7 linked regions of the Homo sapiens genome follow. The protein of the gene in region 1 purifies or fractionates together with the protein of each later gene. This does not show direct contact. Each region holds a gene or a part of one and is shown in the gene's direction. Other genes may lie near its edges.

The links.
Region 2: the proteins of TMPRSS2 (region 1) and P4HA1 purify together in Homo sapiens (affinity purification with mass spectrometry, with the first as the bait; one large-scale study listed by BioGRID). This does not show direct contact.
Region 3: the proteins of TMPRSS2 (region 1) and ITGAV purify together in Homo sapiens (affinity purification with mass spectrometry, with the first as the bait; one large-scale study listed by BioGRID). This does not show direct contact.
Region 4: the proteins of TMPRSS2 (region 1) and YTHDF2 purify together in Homo sapiens (affinity purification with mass spectrometry, with the first as the bait; one large-scale study listed by BioGRID). This does not show direct contact.
Region 5: the proteins of TMPRSS2 (region 1) and ECE1 purify together in Homo sapiens (affinity purification with mass spectrometry, with the first as the bait; one large-scale study listed by BioGRID). This does not show direct contact.
Region 6: the proteins of TMPRSS2 (region 1) and LANCL1 purify together in Homo sapiens (affinity purification with mass spectrometry, with the first as the bait; one large-scale study listed by BioGRID). This does not show direct contact.
Region 7: the proteins of TMPRSS2 (region 1) and SCARB2 purify together in Homo sapiens (affinity purification with mass spectrometry, with the first as the bait; one large-scale study listed by BioGRID). This does not show direct contact.

What each region holds. Positions count from the first base shown.
Region 1 is NC_000021.9:41,463,398-41,467,221, reverse strand, and holds the end of TMPRSS2 (transmembrane protease serine 2), read left to right. Parts: intron 1-1,068; coding exon 1,069-1,080; coding exon of another isoform or gene 1,081-1,102; 3' UTR 1,103-2,917; downstream 2,918-3,824. UniProt on the Homo sapiens protein: Plasma membrane-anchored serine protease that cleaves at arginine residues. Participates in proteolytic cascades of relevance for the normal physiologic function of the prostate.
Region 2 is NC_000010.11:73,068,917-73,073,063, reverse strand, and holds part of P4HA1 (prolyl 4-hydroxylase subunit alpha-1 isoform 2 precursor), read left to right. Parts: intron 1-883; coding exon 884-1,035; intron 1,036-4,080; coding exon 4,081-4,147. UniProt on the Homo sapiens protein: Catalyzes the post-translational formation of 4-hydroxyproline in -Xaa-Pro-Gly- sequences in collagens and other proteins.
Region 3 is NC_000002.12:186,634,781-186,638,927, forward strand, and holds part of ITGAV (integrin alpha-V isoform 1 preproprotein), read left to right. Parts: intron 1-1,301; coding exon 1,302-1,427; intron 1,428-2,284; coding exon 2,285-2,329; intron 2,330-3,496; coding exon 3,497-3,540; intron 3,541-3,628; coding exon 3,629-3,685; intron 3,686-4,147.
Region 4 is NC_000001.11:28,760,688-28,764,834, forward strand, and holds part of YTHDF2 (YTH domain-containing family protein 2), read left to right. Parts: intron 1-4,147. UniProt on the Homo sapiens protein: Specifically recognizes and binds N6-methyladenosine (m6A)-containing RNAs, and regulates their stability. M6A is a modification present at internal sites of mRNAs and some non-coding RNAs and plays a role in mRNA stability and processing.
Region 5 is NC_000001.11:21,255,317-21,259,463, reverse strand, and holds part of ECE1 (endothelin-converting enzyme 1), read left to right. Parts: intron 1-624; coding exon 625-771; intron 772-1,873; coding exon 1,874-1,939; intron 1,940-3,325; coding exon 3,326-3,517; intron 3,518-4,147. UniProt on the Homo sapiens protein: Converts big endothelin-1 to endothelin-1.
Region 6 is NC_000002.12:210,469,825-210,473,971, reverse strand, and holds part of LANCL1 (glutathione S-transferase LANCL1), read left to right. Parts: intron 1-1,895; coding exon 1,896-2,013; intron 2,014-3,638; exon of another isoform or gene 3,639-4,147. UniProt on the Homo sapiens protein: Functions as a glutathione transferase. Catalyzes conjugation of the glutathione (GSH) to artificial substrates 1-chloro-2,4-dinitrobenzene (CDNB) and p-nitrophenyl acetate.
Region 7 is NC_000004.12:76,206,998-76,211,144, reverse strand, and holds part of SCARB2 (lysosome membrane protein 2), read left to right. Parts: intron 1-4,147.

The sequences.
Region 1 (3,824 bases):
AGATGGGGTTTCTCCATGTTGGCCAGGCTGGTCTCGAAGCCCTGACCTCAGGTGATTCACCCACCTCAGCCTCCCACAGTGCTGGGATTACAAGTGTGAACCACGGTGCCCGGCCTCACATGAAACTTTTGATTTATAGAGAGCAGAGGGAAGAGCCGGCTGTGCCCATCCTTTTCTGGGGCCATCGAGTGGCTCCTGGGCAGCCCCCAAGGTTAGGAAGGGCAGGAGCAGCCAGGGTTCTCTGATGCCCCAGACTCAAGCACGAGGGAAGGTCTCAGGGGTTCCATGTGAGCCTCATGGATGTCTCTGCTTAGCAGAGCCCTGGCTTTGGGCATTGTCCAGATAGGGGGTGAGAACCAGATCTTCTCATCTCCAGGACCTCAGACGTATAGTTTTCTCAGATTTCTGTGCTTTCTGGGGCTGGGCTACTAGTGGAAGAAAGCAGTCTATTCTGTCTTCTCCCAAATCTCCCAGATGCCCAGTCTGTTGAAGGAGGAGCAGAACCAGGGGGCCTTTCCCGCTGAGGCCCGACCTGTGTCTCCTTCAAATGACACGCGGGACTCAGGGCCTTCCCATGACCATGGGGCCCAGGGGGCGTCACCTGGCCCAGGGCCCAGTGCTAGAAACAGATGACCCCAGGAGGAGGAGGCAGGGCAGGAGGGAAGCTGGCAGGGCTGGGATGGTCAGCCAGGCTGAGGGGCGGACTCGCACCAGGATGGAGCTAGGAAATGATCCAGGTGTGTTTGGCGGCTGCAGGTGGGTCCGCATGGCTGTGCAGGGAGGGAAGGGCTGCGTGGCAGGAGAGCAGCCGGGGGAGGCCCAGACTCTGCTGAAGAGATGCCTGTTGTGCCGGCCTCCACATCCGCTGCCCGCTCCTTCCGGAGCTCCTGCCCCGCCATGCTCAGCCTGACTCTGACCAACACGTTGGAGAGAAGAATGATCCCTTTGTGCTATTAAGCTTGCTTATTTGGTTTCTAAGTGCTTCATGCGAACCTAGAGGAAAAAATTATTTTCCACCTTTGTTTGTCTTAAGAAAATAACACACTTTTTTTTTTCCTATTTGAACAGGCAGACGGCTAATCCACATGGTCTTCGTCCTTGACGTCGTTTTACAAGAAAACAATGGGGCTGGTTTTGCTTCCCCGTGCATGATTTACTCTTAGAGATGATTCAGAGGTCACTTCATTTTTATTAAACAGTGAACTTGTCTGGCTTTGGCACTCTCTGCCATTCTGTGCAGGCTGCAGTGGCTCCCCTGCCCAGCCTGCTCTCCCTAACCCCTTGTCCGCAAGGGGTGATGGCCGGCTGGTTGTGGGCACTGGCGGTCAAGTGTGGAGGAGAGGGGTGGAGGCTGCCCCATTGAGATCTTCCTGCTGAGTCCTTTCCAGGGGCCAATTTTGGATGAGCATGGAGCTGTCACCTCTCAGCTGCTGGATGACTTGAGATGAAAAAGGAGAGACATGGAAAGGGAGACAGCCAGGTGGCACCTGCAGCGGCTGCCCTCTGGGGCCACTTGGTAGTGTCCCCAGCCTACCTCTCCACAAGGGGATTTTGCTGATGGGTTCTTAGAGCCTTAGCAGCCCTGGATGGTGGCCAGAAATAAAGGGACCAGCCCTTCATGGGTGGTGACGTGGTAGTCACTTGTAAGGGGAACAGAAACATTTTTGTTCTTATGGGGTGAGAATATAGACAGTGCCCTTGGTGCGAGGGAAGCAATTGAAAAGGAACTTGCCCTGAGCACTCCTGGTGCAGGTCTCCACCTGCACATTGGGTGGGGCTCCTGGGAGGGAGACTCAGCCTTCCTCCTCATCCTCCCTGACCCTGCTCCTAGCACCCTGGAGAGTGCACATGCCCCTTGGTCCTGGCAGGGCGCCAAGTCTGGCACCATGTTGGCCTCTTCAGGCCTGCTAGTCACTGGAAATTGAGGTCCATGGGGGAAATCAAGGATGCTCAGTTTAAGGTACACTGTTTCCATGTTATGTTTCTACACATTGCTACCTCAGTGCTCCTGGAAACTTAGCTTTTGATGTCTCCAAGTAGTCCACCTTCATTTAACTCTTTGAAACTGTATCATCTTTGCCAAGTAAGAGTGGTGGCCTATTTCAGCTGCTTTGACAAAATGACTGGCTCCTGACTTAACGTTCTATAAATGAATGTGCTGAAGCAAAGTGCCCATGGTGGCGGCGAAGAAGAGAAAGATGTGTTTTGTTTTGGACTCTCTGTGGTCCCTTCCAATGCTGTGGGTTTCCAACCAGGGGAAGGGTCCCTTTTGCATTGCCAAGTGCCATAACCATGAGCACTACTCTACCATGGTTCTGCCTCCTGGCCAAGCAGGCTGGTTTGCAAGAATGAAATGAATGATTCTACAGCTAGGACTTAACCTTGAAATGGAAAGTCATGCAATCCCATTTGCAGGATCTGTCTGTGCACATGCCTCTGTAGAGAGCAGCATTCCCAGGGACCTTGGAAACAGTTGGCACTGTAAGGTGCTTGCTCCCCAAGACACATCCTAAAAGGTGTTGTAATGGTGAAAACGTCTTCCTTCTTTATTGCCCCTTCTTATTTATGTGAACAACTGTTTGTCTTTTTTTGTATCTTTTTTAAACTGTAAAGTTCAATTGTGAAAATGAATATCATGCAAATAAATTATGCAATTTTTTTTTCAAAGTAACTACTGCATCTTTGAAGTTCTGCCTGGTGAGTAGGACCAGCCTCCATTTCCTTATAAGGGGGTGATGTTGAGGCTGCTGGTCAGAGGACCAAAGGTGAGGCAAGGCCAGACTTGGTGCTCCTGTGGTTGGTGCCCTCAGTTCCTGCAGCCTGTCCTGTTGGAGAGGTCCCTCAAATGACTCCTTCTTATTATTCTATTAGTCTGTTTCCATGCTCCTAATAAAGACATACCCAAGACTGCAATTTACAAAAGAAAGAAGTTTATTGGATTTACAATTCCACATGGCTGGGGAGGCCTCACAATCATGGCAGAAAGCAAGGAAGAGCAAATCACATCTTACATGGATGGCAGCAGGCAGGGAGAGAGTTTGTGCACAGAAACTCCCATTTTTTAAACCATCAGATCTTGTGAGACCCATTCACTATCACAAAAACAGCACAGGAAAGACCCACCCCCATGATTCAATTATCTCCTATCAGGTCCCTCCCACAACACATGGGAATTATGGGAGCTACAAGATGAGATTTGGGTGGGGACACAGAGCCAAACCATATCATTCTGCCCCTGCACCCCCCAAATCTCGTATCTTTACATTTCAAAACCAATCAGGTCTTCCCAACAGTCCCCCAAAATCTTAACTCATTTCAGCATTAAGTCAAAAGTCTACAGTCCAAAGTCTCATCCAACACAAGGCAAGTTGCTTCCACCTATGAGCCTGTGAAATCAAGAGCAAGTTAATTACTTCCTAGATACAACGGGGGTACAGGCATTGGGTGAATACAGCCATTCCAAATGGGAGAAATTGGCCAAAATAAAGGGGCTGCAGGCCCCTTAAAAGTCCAAAATCCAGCAGGGCAGTCAAATCTTAAAGCACCAAAATGACCTCCTTTGACTCCATCTGTCATATCCAGGTCACACTGATGCAAGAGGTGGGTTCCCATGGTCTGGGGCAGCTCCACCTCTGTGACTTCGCAAGGTATAGCTTCCTTCCTGGCTGCATCATGGGCTGGTGTTGAGGGTCTGCAGCTTTTCCAGGCACATGGTGCAAGCTGTTGGTGGATCTACCATTCTGGGGTCTGGAGAATGGTGGCCCTCTTCTCACAGCTCCACTAGGCAGTGCCCCAGTAGGGACTGTGTAGGGGCTCCAACCCCA
Region 2 (4,147 bases), on another chromosome or scaffold:
CAAGTAGCTGGGATTACAGGTGTGCGCCACCATGCCCGGGTAATTTTTGTATTTTTAGTAGAGACGGGGTTTTGCCATGTTGGCCAGGCTGGTCTCGAACTCCTGACCTCAGGTGATCTGCCCTCCTCAGCCTCCCAGAGTGCTGGGATTACAGGCGTGAGCCACCGCACCCAGCCTGACTGATAAATTTTAAAAGTATTGCTAATATCTTCTATCCTCTTCTAACCTCTTAGTCAAGCCACCTGCTGCAGCAATTTTCCAATTCTACTTATCCTTTACTCCCATGGTTCCATTGTAGAGATTATAGTGATGGTAGCGTTAGTGTTATTTAATTGATACAGTTTTTCTCAAATATGAATTTATTTTTAATTGACTCATGTTCATAGTTAATCCTGACCTGAGAATTCCTGTCTTTTATTTAATGAGTAGCTAAGTGTTCAGTTTTTCATTTTAAGATACAGTTTCTAGAAACTGGATGTAAAAATTTAGTATAAGTTGATTTAAATGAACATGTAATTGAATTTGGGTTGGGCTAATTTGTAGTTTGTAATAATCAGTTATTTGGCCCTGGGACCTAAGTCTAAAATTTTTAGACTTTTACTGGAGGGATTCATTCACAACTTTTACTAAGACAGGGAGGTTCCATTTACTGTAACCATTTGGGAGAAACAAAATTAAAACAAAAAGTCCTATAGTTGTATTGATTCTGCCAAGAGGATGTCGCTTTTTAAAGAGACCGAGACCGTATACTTTTACTTTAAAAAGAAACTACAGATATAGTTGAACTCAAAAACTTCTAGTCATTTTTTTTCTGAGCGTTTCATTAAATTGTGTTTTTCCCTATGAAATATAAATATTCAGTTTTTATGTTTTACATCTGTAGATGGGCAGAGAAGTTAGATCGGCTAACTAGTACAGCGACAAAAGATCCAGAAGGATTTGTTGGGCATCCAGTAAATGCATTCAAATTAATGAAACGTCTGAATACTGAGTGGAGTGAGTTGGAGAATCTGGTCCTTAAGGATATGTCAGATGGTAAGTCTGAAGAGATTCCTGAGTAAGGTAATATTGCCACCATATGTAGAAATAATAAAATTAATGATAAATTCAGTTCCCAGGAAACCAGTTCAGTTCAGTGTTGTAACTGGATTATGCCTGGGTGCATTTGGTTTGAATAGAGTTAATTTAGTCAAAATCCTGAATTCTTTGATTAAAAAAGAAGTAATTTCTTTTTTTGTTGACTTGTTTTGAAATCTGCAAAAGTGAATAGATTATTTGGCATATAGCTTCATTTCTGAGGGTAATCATTTTTATTTTAGGATTACCTTCAAACTTTAAAAATTTATGTCTTTATCTGCAATCAATTTAAAAAAATGTTGGGAGTGTTACTATAAAGAGAAGTATTAGCTGTGTTCTATCTAGTATTTTGAAGTTTAGAATTAGTTTGCTCAATGTGGACAATCAAACTGAGGCTGCAAACAGTAAAAATGAGTAAGTGATACAATACAATTTGTAGTTGGAGCATTGAAATGTTTTAGATACTTTAATAACAGATGTAGAAGACTAAATCTGGACTTTATTAAGGAGGTAAAGGGATTATGCCTCGCCCCCCGCCGCCCCTGCCCTGCCCCGCCAAGAAAAGAAGAAGAGAGAGACGGAAAAGAGCTGAGCTAGTTGTGTAGATAAAATACTCCAAGGGTACTTACCAGTGTTTGTAAGCAGTGAAGTAAACTTATTATGCACAGGGATCAGGAAGCCTTGAAAAGAAAAATATGGCAAGTACTTGTGAATACTTCTTTACTGTGAGAGGGAAATGCCTGTGATTATTTTCTGTACTGTATAACACCTTGGGAACTTTTTTTTTTTTTTTTGGAGACAGGGTCTCACTGTCTAACTGTTGCCCAGGCTGGAGTACAGTGGCACAATGGTGGCTCACTGCAGCTTTGAACTCCTGGGCTCAAGCAATCCTCCCACCTCAGCCTCCTCAGTAGCTAGCACTACAAGCATAGACCACCACGCCAGGCCAATTTAAAAATTTTTCTTTCTTAGAAACAAGGTCTTGCTATGTTGCCCAGGCTGATCTCAAATTCTTGGCCTCATGTGATCCTTCCACCTCAGCCTCCCACAGCGCTAGGGATTACACGCGTGAGCCATGGTTCCTGGCCCCTGAACCATTTTTTAAAGGAAATCGATATATTTATTCTCAAGTAATGAACTAAGTTGTTTTATAATGTGAACCTTGGCACTTTGTTGTTTTAATCTGTAGTAGTCATTCTATAATGCTATGAGAGAGTATATATATTTTAATTTTTCTTAGAATTTTGTTTGTAGCATAAGAGATATTATAGCCTTCTATAAAACTTATAAAACTTGCTTGTAAAATTCCATATAGAGATTGCAACTGAGAGTTGGTCGTAAAACTAAAAATATTGTTGGGAACAGAGCAGGTCAAAACTCCCATGATTGATCTAATAATGGAATTATACTGGTAAAAAGCCACTGCACTTCAGCCTGGGCAACATGGCAAGACTCTGTCTCTAAAAAGAGACAAAACAGCATAAAAATATGCTTGATATAAACTCTAGCCCTCTTCTAGTTATTTGTTCATTTGTACATTTTCATTTCACGCCTGTAATCCTAGTAGTTTGGGAGGCTGAGGCTGGCAGATCACTTGAGGTCAGGAGTTCGAGAGGAGCTTAGTCAACATGGTGAAAACCCGTCTCTACTAAAAATATAAAAGTTAGCCGGGCCTGGTGGTGGGCACCTTTAATCCCAGCTAGTCGGGAGGCTGAGGCAGGAGAATTGCTTGAACCGGGAGTTGGAGGTTGCCATGAGCCAAGATTGCACTGCTGCATTCCAGCCTGGGTGACAGAGCGAGACTCCATCTCAAAAAAAAAAAAAAAAAAAAAAAAAAAAAAAAAGGCCTGGTCTCTTGCTGTTCAAAATACGTAGCTGGCTGGACACAGTTGCTCATGCCTGTAATCCCAGCACTTTGGGAGACCAAGGCAGGTGGATCGTTTGAGACCAGGAGTTGGAGACCAGCCTGGGCAACACGGTGAAACCCCGTCTCTACTAGAAATACAAAAATTAGCCAGGTGTGGTGGCACATGCCTGTAATCCCAGCTACTGGGAGGCTGAGGCAAGATAATTGCTTGAACCTGGGAGGTGGAGGTTGCAGTAAGCTGAGATCATGCCACTGCCACTGCTCTCCAGCCTGGATGACAGAGTGAGACTGTCTCAAAAAAAAAAAAACAAAACAGTTGATTATAAGTTAATGAGAAGAGAGGGAAGTCTCATACCTAACTTTTATTCACAAGTAATGATACTGATATTAAAATTTTAAACCAATTTTTTATTTCTTAAGGAGTGTTTAGCATTCATTCTTCTTGGGGTTATATAGTTATCAGTAATTGGTTTGTTTGATTTTTGCATACTTTATATAAATCCTCTAAGATTAGGTTTATATATTGTAAATTTTGGTTGATCAACGTCATGTTTGATAATTAAACTGATTTAAATATATTTTAGTAAACTAGCTTTGCTGTTGATCTTAAATATATAGTTAATATCTCTTCCTTCTCCTTGAAGAATTCCACCAAACTTTATATATTTACATATTTATATAATGTGTAATACATGGAAGAAAAAAACAACTTTAAGAGCACATATTTTACTTACCATCTGTTATCTGGAAGTATAATTGATTGTCAATGAATGTCATTTCAGACCCATAAATGTGTTCATTTCTCAAACTTAGTGGATGCACTTTGTTTTCTTGCTGTGTTATATAACTAAAAACTCATAACTATTATGTTAGGTGATCTTTACCTGCTAATACAGATACAATTTATATAACAGCGTCACAGTCCTTAAGCAACACTAGGCTTTTGGAAGATTGAACAAGTTAGAAGTATGCCAAGTCTTATTCAGTGTATTTAATTTTTTCTTGTTGAGTATGTAGAACTTTTCATGGTGTGGTAGAAAATAATAAAATAGATTTTGAACAATCCTTATTAAGTCTCTTTATGGGAAGTTTATGAGGTTCTACAGTTTTTTTTTCTTTGATTTATCTATTTCAAGGCTTTATCTCTAACCTAACCATTCAGAGACAGTACTTTCCTAATGATGAAGATCAGGTTGGGGCAGC
Region 3 (4,147 bases), on another chromosome or scaffold:
AGGGGATATTAACACTTTATAGTTAGATATAGAAATATGGATTTATTTTTCTTCTTTATTGCTGATTATGTCATTCAGTGGAGGGGAAGGAAGTATCTGATGAGCATGCCTGGGAACCAAAACTGTCAAGGAAGCTAAATTTTGTGATTCTCAGTTAGGACTACTTGTTAACTCTGTCTTTTTAAGAGATACAGCTGTGAAAATGTATGACCTTTTTTTTTAATGCCATGGGTATTGCATAAATAGGAATAATAATAAATAGGAATGTGTAATAATTAGGACACAGTAATAAATTAGGACAGAGAGGTACTATTAATATTATATTTATTAGAATTTTATTACAAGTTGTCTGTAATATATAGCTAGCAGACTCAGTGAATTGGCAAATAGTATTTTGTTTTAATAAGATTAAAATCAGCAGATGTCACCCTGGATAAGTACGTTAGAATGAATTTTTTCACAGATCTCAGAATTGTCGTTGTTAGAATGGAGAAAAGAATAATGTTTTATTCAGAAGAAATAATGAATTTTCCTCTGTTCTTCAATTCAGGAAATGTTTATTGAATTTCATATGTTCTTGGTACCGCTGAAGCCCAGATGATAAAGTAGTGACCTGGACAGAGAAAGTGCTTCTGTGCTGTAGATCCAGTCTCTGTGACTGAACAGATGGGAACAGGACTGAAAATGTTAGCTGTTACACATTTCTTTCTAAAACAGCAGAAATGATAAGAGATTACTGTGTCCATATTGTGGAGACAACACTTGATAAACCAGCTATCCTTTCTTGGCATGGAGGGCAGGCTGATTTTTGTGTAGTCATCTAGATTTCTTGTCTGCTTAATAACAAGGTTGTGAACAAAGGTGAACTCATCCATTCAGGTTGTTTCCTAAAGATGTTTAAATTACTAGTTAAAAAATATCAATTGAACCAATTATTCTGATTATAAAAGTAACAGTATTGTTTCAGTAAATTTTTCATGTTTTAATGGATTAGTTGGGTGATAGCCTTTGATTTTATTATTCCGTGTATTTAACATTGCTTTCTAGTGATTTAAGACAAGTCCTGTTTTCTTAAATTTTTATTAGCAGAGACTACTTTTAAGTACTGGCTTAAACAGAAATAATTTTAAGTTAAGAATATCCATTTTCAAATTGAGTATGATCAAGGAGAGTTATGTACGGCTAATAATTAGAAGTACTAATATCTAATATTGTTTTCCTTCATGCAGGTACCATACATTATCTGTATCATAAAGTTTCCATTTGAAGGTTATTTATTTTATATATACACCCTTTTTTAGGTCAGCTTATTTCGGATCAAGTGGCAGAAATCGTATCTAAATACGACCCCAATGTTTACAGCATCAAGTATAATAACCAATTAGCAACTCGGACTGCACAAGCTATTTTTGATGACAGCTATTTGGGTAGGTAAAACCAAAATTTACTCATTTTTGGAACTGTGGTACATATATCTTATATCTGAGTATGGTCTTTTAAGTAGAAAAATATTTTATGTGAAATAGATTAGGATTTTTTGAAACATACAGAATATACAATTTCAAATTGTTAATGAGTACTTTGGTTATGTTACGTTTCAGTAATTGAAATTGAAGACAGTGATTATTTGTGCAGTGATAATAATAATAGCTAGCCTTTAAGATATGCTTACTGTGTTCTGGGCATTGTTCAAGGTGACTTGGTTTGTATTCACTCATTTAATCCTCACAAGTCAAGCATACTGTATTATTCTCATTTTGTAGGTGAAAACACTGAGGCACTGAGACGCAAAATAACTTGCCCAAAGTCACTCGCTTGTAACTTGCTGTTCAGAGATTCAAATGGAGACAGTCTAACTCCTGAAGTTTTCTTCATGATGTTAAATAAAAGTTTTGGTCTTTAGGACTTATTAACATGTGTTCTCTCTTTCAATTTCTTTATGATATATTAAAACAAGTCATATATGACAGAAATAGTACTTGCTGATTGAGAGAATTTATTTGTTCTTTATGATGAGTTGTAAATTTGGTGTTTTTAACAGACTCCTTTGTAAAGTTAATAAGACAATTGTAGTTTTGTAATAAAAATAGACTATTTGAGTATTTAACTCAGTTTCATTTAAAATTCATATGTCATATATATATGAATCTGTTATGACTAGGGGACAAAATATTGCATAAGTAAAGGAGTTTCTTGAAAATATTTTCAAGGAATGCTTACTCAGCAAGCCTGCTGAAGATAACGTCCTTGTCCTGATGGTTCTCCCCTTTGGTTTCCTGTTTAGGTTATTCTGTGGCTGTCGGAGATTTCAATGGTGATGGCATAGATGGTATGAAGTACTTGAACTATATCTAATCTTTAAAAAAATTAGATTAAGTATTTGAAACATGTGGCATTGAAAATTTTAAGCAGTTTGAGTGGCTGGGTGCTGTGGCTGCAGCCTGTAATCTCAGCACTTTGGGAGGCTGAGGCGGGTGGATCCCTTGAGCCCTGGAGTTCAAGAACAGTCTGGACAACATGGCAAAACCCTGCCTCTAGAAAAAACACAAAAATTAGCCGGGCGCGGTGATGCACACCAGTGTCTAGCTTCTCAGGAGGCTGAGGTGGGAGGATCTCCAGAGCCCAGGGAGGTTGAGGCTGCTGTGAGTTGTGATTGCGCCACTGCACTCCCGCCCGGGCGACAGAGCCGAGACCCTGTCTCAAAAAAAAAAAAAAAAAAGGAAAAGAAAATAAAATTTTAAGCAATTTTAAACCATTGTTATGGAATATAACAGAAGAAATGAGGAAGATGTTAGCACACTGGTGAGAGTCCAGGCTAGGTCTGTGCTGAACTTCCTCTAGTGGCTGCTGAAATTGAGACAGCTACACTTGGCTTCAGTGCCTTTCCTTTCTGCTTCTTTTTAGCCCCCAACACTGTTAGTGATTTCCTTAGCATTTTCCTCCTTGTCTTCAGCAAATTCATTCCTCTGGGAGGAAGAATTAGTGTCTTCTTTCTTTAGGCATCCTTTGTTACCTTCTGGGCCATCTCTGTACGGTTATTACCCCATCCTCTCATTGTCCATCCATCTTCCTTCAGAGCTCCGTTTAGGAATCACAGTCTTTACCTGATTTTGATCACATTTTTGTGCCACAGCCACTTCTACCCCACTTCAGTTTGCTCTGTATTATTTTTCATTACTGTACTACTAAACTAAATGTAGTTTTTCTTCATTCTTAGGTTACTTTATCTTGTCTATTCTTGTTTAACAATATTACAAATGACTTGAGGGCTTATTTGCATATGTTTGAGAGCCCTCCAGAATTTGTATTTTGTAAATTTTGATTTTATAGTTTAAAAATGCTGGGCTATTTATTACGGAGTACCAATTTTTCTAAATTGATTGTTTGTTTTGAACTGAAGTAGTAAAACTTAAAGCTTGCTGACATAGTCACTTCTGGTCTGCAACTTCCAGTGTTGTCCTAAAAAATGAATAATTTGTTTGTTTGTTTGTTTCAGACTTTGTTTCAGGAGTTCCAAGAGCAGCAAGGACTTTGGGAATGGTAGGACAGTTAAAAGGTATTTTTTAAAAAATCTCTAAGTTATCTTCTATTTTACCAGATTTCACATACTTCTATTTTTCCTTCACAGGTTTATATTTATGATGGGAAGAACATGTCCTCCTTATACAATTTTACTGGCGAGCAGGTATGCTTCCAAAATATGATCGTCCTCTCCCACTATAAAAGCAGTATGTACTCATTGGAGAAAATTTGCGAAATAAAACTGTAAAAATGAACTATAATCTCATCAAATAGATAATTCTTCCAACTCTTACCATTTTGGTCAAACTATTATCATTTCTCTTTTGAGCGTGTGTGTGTGTGTGTGTGTGTGTGTGTGTGTGTGTGTGTAGTATATAAACAAAAATTGGTTTACTCTGTATTTTTCATTTTGTCTTGCCTTTTTCACTCAATATTTTATCATCAGAGTTTCTAATTTCTTAAAACTTTCCTTGGCAGTATCAGAATGGTTTAATGATTCCATAATATTCAATATTCTAGATATAAGATGGGCTTTAAATATTTCATCTTTGTTTTAACCAAAGTAATTTGGATATTTTGGCTTGTTTTTGTTTCCTTTTTTTTTTTTTTTTAGGAAATGCAAAAT
Region 4 (4,147 bases), on another chromosome or scaffold:
CTCCTCCCTCAGCCTCCCAAGTAGCTGGGACTACAGCCGCGTGCCACTACACCCAGCTGATTTTGTATTTATGGTAGAGACAGGGTTTCACCATGTTGGCCATGCTGGTCTCAAACTCCTGATCTCAGGTGATCCGCCTGCCTCTGCCTCCCAAAGTGCTGGAATTACAGGTGTGAACCACTGCGCCTGGCCGAATTTGTTATTAAGTATTATTTATTATACATAATTTTACGTGCTATAGTTTTATACGACTTGCAGTGCGGTAGGTTTGTTTACACCGCATTACCACAAACAAGTGAGTAATGTTTTGTGCTACATCCTTACAGTGGCTTCGACATCGCTAGGTGATAGGAATTTGTCAGCTCCATTATAATCTTACTGATCTGTCATTGACTGAAATGTCATTATATCGTGCATGAGTGTGTGTGTGTGTGTGTGTGTGTATTTTTTTTTTTTTTTTTTTTTGAGAGAAGGCCTCACTTTGTCACCCAGGCTGGAGTGTAGTGGCCTGATCACAACTCATTGCAGCTTTGACCTCCTGGGCTTAAGCATACTTTTTCTTGCAGCCTTCTAAGTAGCTGGGACCACACAGGTGTTCGCCACTATGCCTGGCTAATTAAAAAAACTTTTTGGAGAGATAAGGTTTCACTGTGTTGCCCAGGCTGTTCTTGAATTCCTGGGCTTAAGTGATCCTCCTCCTTTGGCCTCTCAAATTGTTAGGATTCCAGGTGTGAGCCACCATGCCTGGCCTAATGTTTAAAAATTTCTGGCTGGTGCGGTGGCCCATGCCTGTAATCCCAGCACATAACGGAGGCCAAGGCAGGTGGATCACCTGAGGTTGGGAGTTCGAGACCATCCTGACCAACATGGAGAAACCCCGTCTCTACTAAAAATACAAAATTAGCTGGGCATGGTGGCGCACGCATGTAATCCCAGCTACTCAGGAGGCTGAGGCAGAAGAATCGCTTGAACCCGGGAAGTGGAGGTTGCGGTGAGCCGAGATTGCGCCATTGCATTCCAGGCAACAAGAGCGAAACTCTGTCTCAAATTCTAGTAGAGTCAGGTTCTCAGTATGTTGCCCAGGCTGGTCTCAAACTGCTGGTCCCAGCCTCCCAAAGTGCTGGGCTTGTAGGCAGGAGGTACCATGGCCAAAATAGATATTTTTAATAAAATATTATAGCCTTGCTTTAAATTGGAGAACTGATGAAAAATACTTTGTCTCTTTATCTGGGGGAAGTTAGCATCTTAATTATATATGACTTGATGTTTCATATATATATGACTTGAAGTCTAAAGTCAAGTCATTAGACTTATTTAACTTATTCACGGCATTGGAGACTATAAAGGTTGATTCTATTAAACCATATCAAGCAATGGAAGTAATTTTTGTGTCATCACATCACTTTTAAAAACACATTTTCCTAGCCGGGCGTGGTGGCTCACGCTTGTAATCCCAGCACTTTGGGAGGCTGAGGCGGGCGGATCACGAGGTCAGGAGATCGAGACCATCCTGGCTAACACGGTGAAACCCCGTCTCTACTAAAAATACAAAAAATTAGCCGGGCATGGTGGCGGGCACCTGTAGTCCCAGCTACTCGGGAGGCTGAGGCAGGAGAATGGCATGAACCCGGGAGGTGGAGCTTGCAGTGAGTGGAGATTGTGCCACGGCACTCCAGTCTGGGCAACAGAGCGAGACTCTGTCTCAAAGAATTTTAGAATGAGACTCCGTCTCAAAGAATGACTCCCGTCTAAGCATTTTATATTGTCAGCTGGGGTGCTGAACTTTGGGTTTCTTTCAAGGTTCATGGGGGCATAGGAAAAACTAGTTGAGAGCTATATAGATTTAATTTTGTGGGAGAGATAAACATTTACCAGATTTTAATGTTAATAAAATTATATCCAGGTGAATATGAATATGCCTCAGTTGTGTTTTATGGCCCACTTGAAAGTGAAGGGAGAGGGAGGGATAGAACAGTGCAGTAGTAAGTAGAAAGGTTATTAAGCTTAAATAGAGGGAAGCTAAATAGGCAGATTTACTGTTTTTGAATATTATATGAAGAGATTGCATATGTGCAGACTTTAACATTGCCACCTTATGGCTTTTTGTATATTTCCTCCAGAGACTGAATTTTCTATTTTATTTTATTTTATTTTTAATTTTTATTTTTGAGACAGAATCTAGCTCTGTTGGCTAGGCTGGAGTGCAGTGGCGCGATCTTGGCTCACCCGGGTTCAAGTGATTGATTCTCCTGCCTCAGCCTCCTGAATAGCTGGGACTACAGGCATGTGCCACCACGCTTGGCTAATTTTTGTATTTTTAGTAGAGATGGGGTTTCACAATGTTGGCCAGCCCTGTCTTGAGCTACTGACCTCAAGTGATCCACCTGCCTCGGCCTCCCAAAGTGCTGGCATTACAGGCATGAGCCACTGCACCCAGCCGAGTTTTCTATTTTGTAATCATAGATTTAAAGTGAGGAGGGCCTAAGGTGGATGGGTGGATAGAGATGTCGACATTATTTCTAGTTATTTAAGCCACAGACCAGATCTGTCTGGACTTGTAGTTTCCTAATTTATTCATAGTTAATATCTTTAATGTTTTTATTTGAGACAGAGTTTTGCTCTTTTGCCCAGGCTGGAGTGAAGTGGCGTGACCTTGGCTCGCTGCAACCTCTGCCCCCTGGGTTCAAACAATTCTCCTGCCTCAGCCTCCTGAGTAGCTGGGATTATAGGTGCCTGACACCAGGGCTGGCTAGTTTTTTATTTATTTTTAATTTTTATTTTTTATTGAGATGGAATCTCCCTCTGTTGCTCAGGCTGGAGTGCAGTGGTGCGATCTCAGCTCAGTGCAACCTCCACCACCCAGGTTCAAGCGATTCTCCTGCCTTAGCCTCCTGAATAGCTGGGACTACAGGTGTGTGCCACCATGCCCAACTAATTTTTTGTATTTTTAGCAGAGATGGGGTTTCACCATGTTAGCCAGGATGGTCTCGATCTCCTGACCTGGTGATCCGCCCACCTCAGCCTCCCAAAGTGCTGGGATCACAGGCGTAAGCCACTGTGCCCAGCCAATTTTTTTTTTTTTTGGGATTATGGGCGTGAGCCACTGAGCCTGGCCGACAATTTATAATTGTATATATTTATGGGGTACAAAGTAATCTTAATTTTTTCAAAGAACCAACTTTTGTTTTTTTTTTTCCTATTATATATACTTTAACTCATGCCAGCTCATATCTTTATTATTATTATTATTTTTTAAATTTATTTATTTTATTTTTTTTTGAGACGGGGTTTCTCTCTTGTTGCCAAGGCTGGAGTGCAGTGGTGTGATCTCGGCTCACTGCAACCTCCATCTCCCAGGTTCAAGCGATTTTCCTGCCTCAGCCTTCCTAGTAGCTGGGATTACAGGCATGTGCCACCACGCCCAGCTAATTTTGTATTTTTAGTAAGAGACGGGGGTTTCTCCATGTTGGTCAGGCTGGTCTCGAACTCCCGACCTCAGGTGATCCGCCCACCTCGGCCTCCCAAAGTGCTGGGATTACAGGCATGAGCCACTGTGCCCGGCCCAATTTTTTATTTTTATTTATTTTTATTTTTATTTTTTTGAGACGGAGTTTTGCTCTGTCACCCAGGCTGGAGTACAGTGGCGCGATCTCAGCTCACTGCATCCCCTGCCTCCTGGATTTAAGCAGTTCTCTGCCTCAGCCTCCCAAATGGCTGGGATTACAGGCGCCCACCACCACGCCCGGCTAATTTTTTTTTTGTTTTTTTTAGTAGTGGGGGTTTCACCATCTTGCCCAGGCTGATCTTGAACTCCTGACCTCGTGATCCACCCACCTCGGCCTCTCAAAGTGCTGGGATTACAGGCGTGAGCCATCGTGCCCGGCCCCAATTTTTTATTTTTAGTAGAGATGGGGTTTTGCCATGTTGGCCATGCTGGTCTTGAACTCCTGACCTCGTGATCCACCCACCTCGGCCTCCCAAAGTGCTGGGATTACAGGCGTGGGCCATCGTGCCTGGCCTCAATTTTTTATTTTTAGTAGAGATGGGGTTTTGCCATGTTGGCCATGCTGGTCTCGAACTCCTGACCTCAGGTGATCCCACCTTCCTCGGCCTCCTAGAGTGCTAGGATTACTCGGGTGATCCACCG
Region 5 (4,147 bases), on another chromosome or scaffold:
CAAGACCCCATCTCCAAAAAATTTAAAAATTAGCCAGGTGTGGTGATACACACCTGTAGTCATAGCTACTTAGGAGGATGAGGTGAGACAATCACCTGAGCCCAGGAGGTGGAGGCTGCAGTGAGTTGTGATGGCCCCACTGCACTTCAGCCTGGGAATCAGAGCAAGACTCCATCTCAAAAAAAATTTTTTTAAAATCCCAACTTTGAGACTAAAGTAGACCGTAATTTACCAACCTTCTTAAACATGTGGAGCCTTTTTTATCCCAGAGGCACAATTGAATTTATGTTTTGATATAATCACATTCACACAATTCATTATCCAAAATATAAACCGTGAACCGGGAAAAGTCTCTTTCCCATTCTCATCCCAGCCACCCAGGGAGCGGCTGGATTCATGCCTGGCTGCTTGGCTTGTCTAGGATAAGCCTTTGCTCCATCCATGGGTCTCCAGCTCATGGGTCGGAAACCCCCGATGAAGACCAATCCTTTCCTTTGCTCTTGAGGCTCAGAGAGGTCAGGCGACTGCTCCAGGGTCACAGAGCAAGTCAGCGGCAGAACCAGAATTCACATCTGGGTCTCCCCGCCACCTCATCACCTCCCTGCCTGCTCTCCCTCCCCACAGCTCGGGGGCTGGAACATCACAGGTCCCTGGGCCAAGGACAACTTCCAGGACACCCTGCAGGTGGTCACCGCCCACTACCGCACCTCACCCTTCTTCTCTGTCTATGTCAGTGCCGATTCCAAGAACTCCAACAGCAACGTGATCCAGGTGAGCTAGCTTGAACCTGCAGCGGTCGAGGGGGCGGGCACGACCTCTTCCTGTTTTGAGTTTAGCAGGACCTGGGGTGGGAGAGGGGCTTGCCCTGGGTGGGACGGCGGTCTTCTAGTTTCTGAGCCTGGGTTATTTCCAGAGGCCCCACTGGTGAGATCTTTGCAGGCTGCTGGCCTTGCGTAGATGGGCACTGCATACAGGTGAAACTTTGGGTGCTGATGGGTTTCCGTGGGCCCCAAGAATGATGTCAACTCCTGGGCACAGCTGAACCCACATCCTGGTTTCCCCCTCCTTAGCGTCTGCTCTTTGTAACTCTTCTTGGAATGGGTTTGAATCCATCTCTCCCTGTCAGAGCATGCCCCAGACAGAGGCTCAGCCTGCCCAGGGGAGCTCCAGCACTGGTCTGCCCCAACCTCCAATGCAGAAGTGAGAAACCCAGGCTGGGGGTCCTAAAAGCTGAGTTCCCAGCCCATCTCTACCATTCAGTCACTGTGTGACCTTGGGCAAGTGCCTCAACCTCTCAGAGCTACAGTTACCTTATAAATCAAATGGATTGCAATAACACCTGTCCTAGGTATGCCAAGATGTGGCCATGGGTGCCAATAGTAGCAAGCAGAATTTGACCCTCCCCTCCTGCTTGGCAGGCACTTGACCAGCACTGTCTTCTTGAATCCCCATTCTAGCTCTGAAGGTTAGGTTTTATTTTCCCTATTTACCTGAGAAGAAACCTGAGAATCAGAAAGGTTCAGTAACTTGGCCAAGATCACACAGCTTTTGAGTGACTCTTAACCACCTGGAAAGCGTTGGGGAGATAGAGGCACTTTGCCGAGGCAAGTAGCTGTTTAAAAAGGAGGGTGGCTCTGTCCAGCCCTTCTGAGGAGCCCAGGAGCCCTGCGGGGGGGGGCCACGTGGACAGGCAGGAATGTGTCATCCCGTCCCTGAGTGGGCTTCTCAGTGACTGTAGCCAGCAGTCCTGCTTCTCCAAGGGCCTGAGCTGGGCCTCTGCTGCCATGTGCCAGCCATTCCCAGGGCAGGAGGCCGTGCAGTGGATACACGCATTGCAACACGAATTCCCTCTCATGCCTGCTTCTCTTGCCAGGTGGACCAGTCTGGCCTGGGCTTGCCCTCGAGAGACTATTACCTGAACAAAACTGAAAACGAGAAGGTAAGCGTGCCTCTCCCCTCCCAGCCTGCCTCCCAGCACGGTCCTTCCTGCTCCGTGTCCACACCCACACCTGTGCAGGTCTTTGAAGCTAGGGGAGCCCAGGGGTGTCAGTGACCTGATGGGTGAAACAGGCAGACCCTGGCAGGGGAGGGACACCCCTAGGCTGGCTGTGTCACTCAGGCATCATGGACACAAGGGGCAAGAGACAGGTATCATTTGTCCTGGTTCTAGAGAGAGGCAGAGGCAGCAATAACAGCTACCACAATTCGCCTGGCCCTTTATACATCACCTGTGACCCTCCCATTAACCCTGCAGATACTGAACTTCATTTGCCTCATCTGTCAAACAGGAATTAGTTTTGTCTTGCCTTTTACAGAAGAGGGTATCAGGCTCAGAGATGCTAAGTGATCTGCTCAAGGTCACATAGCCAGTAAATGACGAGCCTGAGATTCACATCCGGATCCACGTGCTCCGAAGCCCATGGCTCTCCCTCCCCCTGGCCTGCCTCTTGTGATGCCTCTTGGGGCGACCTCACCTGGAACTCATTCATCTGTCCTTTCATCCTTCCGCCGGCATGTACTTGACCAAGCGCCCACAGAGTGCCTGATGCTGGGGAGATGGTAGCAGACAAGACCACCATAGCCTTCGTCCCACAGGGCCTGTGGTTTGGTCGGCGAGGCGGATATTATTTAACTAAGAGAAAGTGAAGCTGAGAAAGTCTACCGTGGAGACCTAATTCAGATCTTGGAACACGGGTGGGGGGTGGTCAGAAAAGATGCATTCTAAGAATGGAAAGACAGCCCCAGGACAAGCCCTGGAAGACAGGGACCAGCCCAGGTGGGGACCTGTGAGACGAGCCAAGACTTTGGGCTTTCTCCTGGAGGCTGTAGGGAAGCAGCAGAGAGACACGGCCCCGAGATCATTCTCAATGCTGTGTCTCCCACGGGTGTCTTCTTCTTTTTTTTTTGAGACAAAGTCTCTCTCTGCCGCCCAGGCTAGAGTGCCATGGCGCACAATCTGGGCTCACTGCAACCTCCTCCTCCTGGGTTCAAGTGATTCTCCTGCCTCAGCCTCCTGAGTAGCTGGGATTATAGGCACCTCCCACTATGCTCAGCTAATTTTTGTATTTTTAGTAGAGACGGGGTTTCGCCATGTTGGCCAGGTTGGTCTCAAACTCCTGACCTTAGGTGATCCACCCACCTCAGCCTCCCAAAGTGCCAGGATTACAGGCGTGAGCCACCACACCTGGCCCCACGGGTGTCTTGGGGGCACTGTGCAGCCCCCTGGCTCCCTGTGCCGGACTTGGCTGGCCAAGCCCCCCACCAACTCTCGTCCAGTGGATAGTGGGGGGGCAGCCACTGACAGTTTGGGGTATGGGCCCTGCAGGTGCTGACCGGATATCTGAACTACATGGTCCAGCTGGGGAAGCTGCTGGGCGGCGGGGACGAGGAGGCCATCCGGCCCCAGATGCAGCAGATCTTGGACTTTGAGACGGCACTGGCCAACATCACCATCCCACAGGAGAAGCGCCGTGATGAGGAGCTCATCTACCACAAAGTGACGGCAGCCGAGCTGCAGGTAACTTGAGCGCCGGCTGCTAGGGAGGCTGGGATGGCCTCCAGGTTTCAGACAGGGCCCTGGACTGGGGGCTTTTATACTCATTTCATCTAGTCCTTGAAACTATGTGACAAAGGAAGGATGGTTGTTATGCCCAGTCCACAGATGGAAAAACTGATGCTCAGAAAGGTCAAGTTACCTGCTGAAGGGCACACAGCTAGTAAGTGACTCCAAAATAGGCGCCTGGCCGACACCAGGCTGCTTCTCTGTAATTAATAGTGTTTACTTGGAGGCTCGGGGTCATGACCACACCAGCTTACATTGACAGCGCCTTTCCAGTCTCTCCAGCACCAAGCACATCGAACTTGGTTACAGTGAGCACTTAATAAATGCATGGTGTGGATTCTGTCATTACTTTTCCCTTTTCTGAGCCAGATCAAGGTCCGGAGGCTCCTAAGTGGCAGAGGAGCCAGCCGCAGATGGGCTCACTGTACAACAGGGCGTTAGATCTGTGATGCTCTCTGTCACCCATTGGAGAAGCCCAACGTCCAAGGGCTCAGCCTCTGCCAAAGGCTGCCCTCTGGTGGCTGCTTGGTTCTTGAGGGTCCAGAGAGAATAGCTTGCTGGTTCCTTCTTTCCAGAGCATCAGCT
Region 6 (4,147 bases), on another chromosome or scaffold:
ATACAGTAGATGACGTGTTCTCAATATAGATGCACTCTTCTATCTAGCTGAGATTTATAGGCCTTTTGTATTAACATTGAAGTATATTTTATCCTACTAAATGTATTTTCAAGTCTAGTTGAAATCTTAACCTCTTTGCAGAAATTGTTAAATAATGGGAGTGTGTCTGTCAAACAACGTCGTTTCTTCTAAAGAGTGAAATAAGGGATCATAGTGGTGCTTTAGATTAAATAATCCAGATGTGGTTGAAAGTCTGATTTGCCTTATCAAGGATGCTCCTCCGAAGTGAATCTTAACGTATCCTTAAACTATTGTTGTTGTTGTTAATTCTGATACTGCCTTCTTGCTGTTTTCAGTGTTAAGATTTTATCTCATTTTTAAAAATGAGATTCTGATGTGAGTGGTTAGGTTTATTTCTACAATCCTTACATGGTAAAATAAAATGTTTATACCCTTGTAACTTTCCCCCACATTGTTCTGAAATTTTAATTACTATGTGAAATTCAAGTCTTAGAATCACAGCAAGTTCTTAAAATTATTGAGGGAGACAATAAAGTGAGTTTTTTGGGTTTTTGTTGTTGTTGTTGTTGTTGTTTGAGATGGAGTTTCGCTCTTGTTGCCCAGGCTGGAGTGCAGTGGCACGATCTCGGCTCACCACAACCTCCATCTCCCAGGTTCAAGGAATTCTCCTGCCTCAGGCTTCCGAATAGCTGGGATTACAGGCGTTCACCACCATGCCCGACTAATTTTGTATTTTTAGTAGAGATGGGGTTTCTCCATGTTGGTCAGACTGGTCTCGAACTCCTAACCTCAGGTTATCCGCCCACCTCGGCCTCCCAAAATGCTAGGATTACAGGCATTAGCCACTGTGCCCGGCCTTCAGTGACTTTTTAAGACACTGATTCAGTGTGTGCAGAAGTTTAAAATTATTTTTCATTTGCCTTTAAGAAGAATAACGTAATGATTGTGTGAGCCTCACTGTTTGCACAGCATCTGTGGACCTTCATATGGGTGGTACTAACCCCACAGCCCCAGCCTTAGTGTATTTTCAATCCATATCTAAACTATTACTTGCCTTAGACCCTTGATCTGCTAAAGAATTAGTAAAAATGTCAACATTTACATCCCTGAATGAGAAAGACTTGTGATACACTATCTCATTTAATCCCCAAAGTACCTTTTGAAATTGGCGTGGCAGTTATTATTATCCTGACTTTATGGAGGTATTTGAAACATAAAGAAGTTATGAGTTGAGCAAGATCAGCTAATAGCGGGTAAGGATGTAGACAGGCTCATTCATTGAGAAACATTTGTGAAGCCCGTATTCTCTGCCAGACACTGTGCTGGACGTGGGTTTATGATGCTAAGTTTGATATTCTTTCTATTCTGCTTAAGGCTCTTGATATACATGAATTTGTTTTGCTTTTCTTTGGCTACTTCATTTTTTTTAAATCCTTTTTTTTAAATAAGAGCAATTAGATGTTTCTTTAGGGAATTTACCTTGCTGCAGCTTGAATACTAAAAATCCAGTAGTTTGAAAGCACCAAACATCTGATTTGTGCTTAATTTAATAAAAAGACTTTATTATAATATTGGTTTAAATAATAGACGATTACTATTAGGTGGAAAATTACTGTGAGCCAGTTTATCATTGGCAGTCTGTTTTAGTATTTAACTAAAAATTTTATTTAAAACATGTATAAGTTACAACGGTATTTTATAAATTTTGTTAATGTGATGTTGTTGTTTAAGAATAGAAAATAAATTGTTTAGTCTTCCAGGTGGAAAAATATGTCCTAAGTGGAAAAGAAATACCTTTCTGTCTTTGATAGCTTATAGTCCAGCAAGCTGGGTGACCCACATTATTTTGATACTTGTTTTCCTTTAATATCTAGCTGACTCCTGAGTTCTCACAACGCTTGACCAATAAGATTCGGGAGCTTCTTCAGCAAATGGAGAGAGGCCTGAAATCAGCAGACCCTCGGGATGGCACCGGTTACACTGGCTGGGCAGGTATGAAGTGCTGACTGTGAGCTGGCATAAGCATTGTGCTTAAGAGCCAGAGCATTTTTCCGAGAGCTGTCTGTCTGAATGGTACACCCTTAAATGCTTCCTGCATCTGCATATGAGTAATTGCTTCTGGGAGAGTGCTGTGCCCTCAACCCAACCAACCATGGTATCTTCTGGGTTTTTAATAGTGCCCTGAATTTAGGGCATGGTAAGCATATTCATGTAATTCATGCCTGACATTTGGATGGCTGCTATACTTGTGAGGAGAAAAATTGATTTTCAATATTACATAGTTAATTTGCAGATGTAATTTCAGTGGGAAGAATTGGGAAGAGTTCCAAAATACAATGCCTGAAGCGGAGGTAATGAGGATTGATCTCAGGAATAAAATATGTCCAGAAGCATGTTTTAAAAAGTTAACCCGTAACAGGAATCCATACAGGAATCCATACAGGGTAAAGTATTACTTCCATGAACTAATCCTCCCATATGGTCATTGCTGTTTGGTTTGCAATTGCTGCATTGCCAATCTCAATCATTGAGAGGCTGGAGGAGGTTTAGGAAGAAACAGTGCATTGATGTCAAAAAAAGGTGAGAAAGAGAAAAATCAAAGAAGAGGCTGGGCGCAGTGGCTCACACCTGTAATCCCAGCACTTTGGGAGGCCGAGGCGGGTGGATCACGAGGTCAAGAGATCAAGACCATCCTGGCCAACACTGTGCAACCCCATCTTTACTAAAACTACAAAAATTAGCTGGGCATGGTGGCTCATACCTGTAGTCCCAGCTACTCAGGAGGCTGAGGCAGGAGAATCACTTGAACCTGGGAGGTGGAGATTGCAGTGAGATGAGATCACTCCACTGCACTCCAGCCTGGTGATGGAGCAAGACTCCATCTCAAAAAAAAAAAAAAAAAAAAAAATCAAAGAAGAAAAGTTGAAGAACTGCAATTAATTTACCAAATGTAGAGAAACAAAAGACAGCTGTGTAATCTGGAAGAAAGCATAGTCTAGAGACTCAGTGTTTCCCATTCGCTTTAAAGAGTGGGCAAGGAGGAATAAGCTTGCAATCCAGGGAATTTTAATTTGATTTTAAGGAGTGGAATTTGTCATAAAAATGGCCTCATAGCAGAGATTGTGATTCAGTAGATCTTGAGCAGAACCCAGGAATTTGCCTTTTATAGCCATCAGTGGTCCTGATGCAGATGGTGATCTACAGACTGCAGTTTGAAAGCTTTCTGAGAGAAATTTATTAATAATAGCAATCTCTTATTAGTCTTCCTCTTTAGTACAGGTTGAGCATCCCAAATCTGAAAATCTGAAATCCAAAATGCTCCAAAATTTGAAGCTTTTTAAGCTCTGATGTGACACTCAAAGGGAATGTTCATCGAGCATTTAGGATTACCGATGTTCAGATTTGGGATACTCAACTGGTAAATATAAGCCAAATATTTCAATATTTGAAATCCAAAACACTTGTCCCAAGGATTTCAGATAACGGGTACTCAACCAATAATGACACATGATTCTATTTTTTTTTAAACAAGGGTAGGGAAGACAGATTAAACCAGTAAAATTAAAATCTCAGGGACTTTTAAAGTCAATGTTTTGTAAAAATAAGACTGGACTAGATAATGTTGGACCATTTTATTGTTTTATCATTTTTATGGATTGTAGAAGCTTAACACAAAGTTAAAATGAGAATGAAATGACAGGATTTTGTTTCAAGAAGGAAGGTATAACAGCTGCCATTTATTATCTACTGTGTTCCAGGTGTGATGTGGTTGATAGATAATGTCATCAGTGAATGTTGAACATTACTATTTATTTAAAATTATCGTGGTTTGAACAAAACAGGACAAGCACAGCGCACAGTTGTCTTGAGTTTTCCTCTTGATTGCCACATTGTAATAATATATAAGGCTCAAACTTACAGATCTTTTTCTAATATATATGGAGTTTCTATTATTTTGTTATTCCTTGCCAAAAAAAAAAATCACTAGTTAATTCTAGTACTGATTACAAAAGAATGACTTAAACTTCTAAATTGGCCATTCACATGTACTCATATTATTATTGTGAGTTACTTTGCTTTAGGAGGAAAAAAAAGGGGATTGATTTCAAGTTTGAATTAAGTTTGA
Region 7 (4,147 bases), on another chromosome or scaffold:
AAAACCTGGATTTGTCTCTGCATGTGTATTATTGTAGGACCAAGTATAAAGCACTTAGCATAGTATCAGGCACAGAATAGGTAATCAATATGTGGCAGTCATCTTTATTGCCACTAGTATTACTATGGGAGAATTCATTCATAACTTGATTCTAATGTAGTTATAATATAATCTACTCTGATATTTCCAGTTCTTTGTTTTTTCATTTGAAGATTGTCTATGCCCCGACTTGTCTATGTCAAAAAGGGAAGAGGGAAAAGGGATGAAATTCAAATGAGTAGGTGTGGGAAGCTTAGTAAGAGAATTCCTATCCAAAAAGTTGTCTCAAATGATAATTGTCCTTGAACCCTGCAGTGACCAGAGGTAACTGAAGAGAGACTTTTAATTTTGGCCAGTGAATATCGTGGAAGGAACCAAGACAATTTTGTTTCATTTTTGGCCTCAGTGGTGACTGCCTCGTATTGGGCAAGGCCTGTAATTGTTTCTGCTTCAATTTTCTCATTTGCAAGAGAGGCATAATAGTACTTCTCTTTTTCCCACACCCTCTTCCTAGGGGATATTGTGAGCATTAATAAGGCATTTCCTTACAAGCGTTTGGGCCTTCATGAAGAGAGAGCTTTGCAGAGACCCAGCAGTTCCTTTTCCTCCCTTAGGCCTGGAAAGGCAGGAGTTTACGTTACATTTCATCTGGTATCCCAGTGAACTGCCTTGACACCTAGCACAGTGCCTGAGATACATATTAAATGCCTCTTCACTCGCCTGTGATCATTTTAATAGAAAGAAGAGTGTCCTGAGAATCAGCAGAACTGAATCAAACATTTTTTTTCTGTCCCTAAGGATTTCTTGGACTAAGCTGAACAAGCACAGTGGCAAGTTATTTAATCCCTCAAATCCTAAGGATCCTCATTTTGAAAATAGGAACAATAAGGATAAGAATACTTAACTCAGAGTTGTCACAAGAATGAAATAATATGATATCTATAAAGCACCCAGCACAATGCCTCGCACAATGCCTGAACGTTAACAGTTGTTATGTCTTTAGCTATATTTGTCATCTGTGAATTGAAACTTATTATACAAGCTATGGTTCCTCTTAGCTCCAAACTTCTGAGATCCCATGACCTTTAAGAGCAGCTATGCAGTTCAGAATATTAAGTTTGCGCTCCTAATCTCTGCAGACGTGCTGGCAGGTTGACTGTCTCCCAGTAATAGGGATGCAGAACTGGCCACAGTCAGGGCTGGCCAACAAGGGATGGGATGGCAAGGGAACCAGTGGGAGACTGTTTACACCTTTGACTTCCTCTTCACAGGTCAAGGCAGGACTGTAGCATTAGGTCTCAGAGATGCAATGAACAGGACAAATACACTTCCCCTTCATCTGGACCTGAGGCTCTGGGCAAGTCAGTACCAGCTGGTTTCTTTTGGGAGCCATAGAAACTCTGGAGCTGTTCTACCGATTCCTCAAGAAGTAAAATATAGGCCAGGCGTGGTGGCTCACGCCTGTTATCCTAACACTTTGGGAGGCTGAATCGGGTGGATCACAAGGTCGGGAGTTCGAGACCAGCCTGGCCAATATGGTGAAACCCTGTCTCTACTAAAAATACAGAAATTAGCTAGGCATGGTGGCAGGTGCCTGTAGTCCCAGCTACTCGGGAGGCTGAGGCAGGAGAATCGCTTGAATCCGGGAGGCGGAGGTTGCAGTGAGCCAAGATGGCTCCCTTGAACTCCAGCCTGGGCGACAGAGCAAGACTCTGTCTCAAAAAAAATAAAAATAAAAATAAAAAAAGAAGTAAAATGTAATCACTGATAACCAGATTGCTTTGATTGGTGACTATGGGATCTTGTTTTTTAAAGTCAAATCAGCAAAACATCTTTATTGATGTGTATGTAAAGGCATTCAGCTATATATCATTTTAAAAGGCTCCTTCTTGCATATCTACCTCATCTCCTGAGTTGCCTCTATTCAAAGAAGACTTATCTTAGTCTGAGATTTTTCTTGATCAGAAAAAAACCTGTAAAGATATCTTAAATCTGTTATCTTACGGTCAAGGAAATTGAGGCTCTTGGAATAGAAGTGACTTATCTAAAGTCAAATGGAGAGGGAAGGAGAGAGCGTGCCAGCTAGCCTTCTGATCCTGAACCCACTTTTCCCATCTCAAGGATGACCATACATCCCATTTGCCTGGAATAGTCCTACATGGTTTCTGTGTACCTGTTGTGCTGGTGTAATCACTAACACCCCCTTTCCTCCAAAAGATTTCTGCTTTGGACAATAAATTCTATGGCCATCCCTCACCTCTCATGCTACATTGTCCTTACAGACCACAATGTATCCCGCTTCTTGGCTCTCTTAAGGAGTTGAGGCCTACTCAAACTAGCTCTGGCAAGAGAGGATTCTTTTTTTTGTTTCTGTAAATCTGGAAGGGGAAGCTCATAGAAATCAAAGGGCAAGAACCACGGCACAGTAAGGCCTCCTGAGAGGACAACCGAAAGTGGAAAGTCAGCAGGAAGCAGGCACACTCTGCCTCCCACTTTTTCCTCTGCTTTCTCCACCAACAGGCTTCCTCTGTTTACTCAGCCTGGCTCTGTACTCATCCGGGCTTGCTCAGCCCCGCCTCAGTGTGACTTTCCAGCTGTTGACCTCTCATAGACATGCTTCATCTCCTAGTTTCTCTTTTCCAAGTTTATAACGGAGCAATGTGATTGGCTCAGCACAGGAAGAAACTATAGCACTGTAAACGGAGGCAGTGTCGTTAATTTCCTTGCAAGATTCTCTAACTCCTAAGCAAAATTATCCAAATTCTTTCCTGGCTTTTAGAAACACGATCTTGTGATATCAAAATCATATTAAGTTTATTTTAGTGTCTTACTAATTCATGTTGACTATGAGTGCATTCCTTATTAATGATTAAGACAATATAGTAGGCTAACAGTTGTCAGCATAGCCCCTAGACTCTAGGAGATGCATCTAAATCACTTACAAAGATTTAGAAAATACCAGACCCCATCCCAGACTTGCTGAATCAGACTCATTAGGAACAGAACTCAGGTTAAAGTGCTTATCATAAAATCCATTACTGGAGGCAGGTTGCTGTGGGATCGTAATCTGCAATTTTGGGAATATGCATTTTTAAAAAAGGTGTTTATATTTGTATAGTGATTATTTTAGACCATGTCTTCATTCCTTAAGATGGTAATTCTGACTGAGGAGATTACTACTTATAATTACTATTAATCTGCAAGTTTACATTAAAGGAAATATTATTTGGTGAGGAGGGGAAGATTCCTGCCTGTGGAAACTACTTTGCTTTATTGTTAAATAAATCCAAGATTTCATTCTGTCAGGCCACAGCAGAGGGGCCATCTGTTCTGCCAGACATTTGCTTATTTCCCAGGAAGAATCAGGAGGTGGAATTATAAGCTCATTGATGAAAACATAGGATGTTGGCCAAGTTACTAGACATTCCTGGCCATATCATCAAGATATGCACTATCTATACACTATACACTAAGGAAGGGACCATTTTTAATCCAAGCTGGTAACTGGAAAAAACAACCAAGGAAAAATAAAGACCACTTTAGGTGTTTGCTTTCTATATCTAAATGCACTTTTGGGTACATGCTTTGGCAGTCATTCTTTCATTTGACAAATATTTACTGAGTGTGTACCATTTGCAAGGCAGTGTGCTAAGAGCTATGGATATAACACTAAACAAGAGGCAGTCTCTACCCTTGCAGATTTTATAATCCAATTTAAACTCCTGGGCCCCTCATATTCTTAAAAATTATTGAGGACCCCAAAGAACTTATGTTTCCATACCTATTGATAGTTACAATATTAGAAATTGAAACTGATATGTATTTTTGAGAAATGTTTAAAACAGAAGACTACACAAGCACATATTCCAATATGACATCATTATATATCACGTAACCTCTGGAAGACTCCACTCTACACTCAGAGAAATAATAGAATTAAAAACGCAAATGATACCTTAGTATTAAAATAGTTTTGACCTTGTGGGCGCCTCCTAAGAAGGTCTTCGGGCTCCCCAGGGGTCCTGAGATCACACTTTGAGAACTGTTGATCTAGTTTTCATTTAATTATTTTTTTAGAATATTTTTAAAAATACATAATATCCCTGTT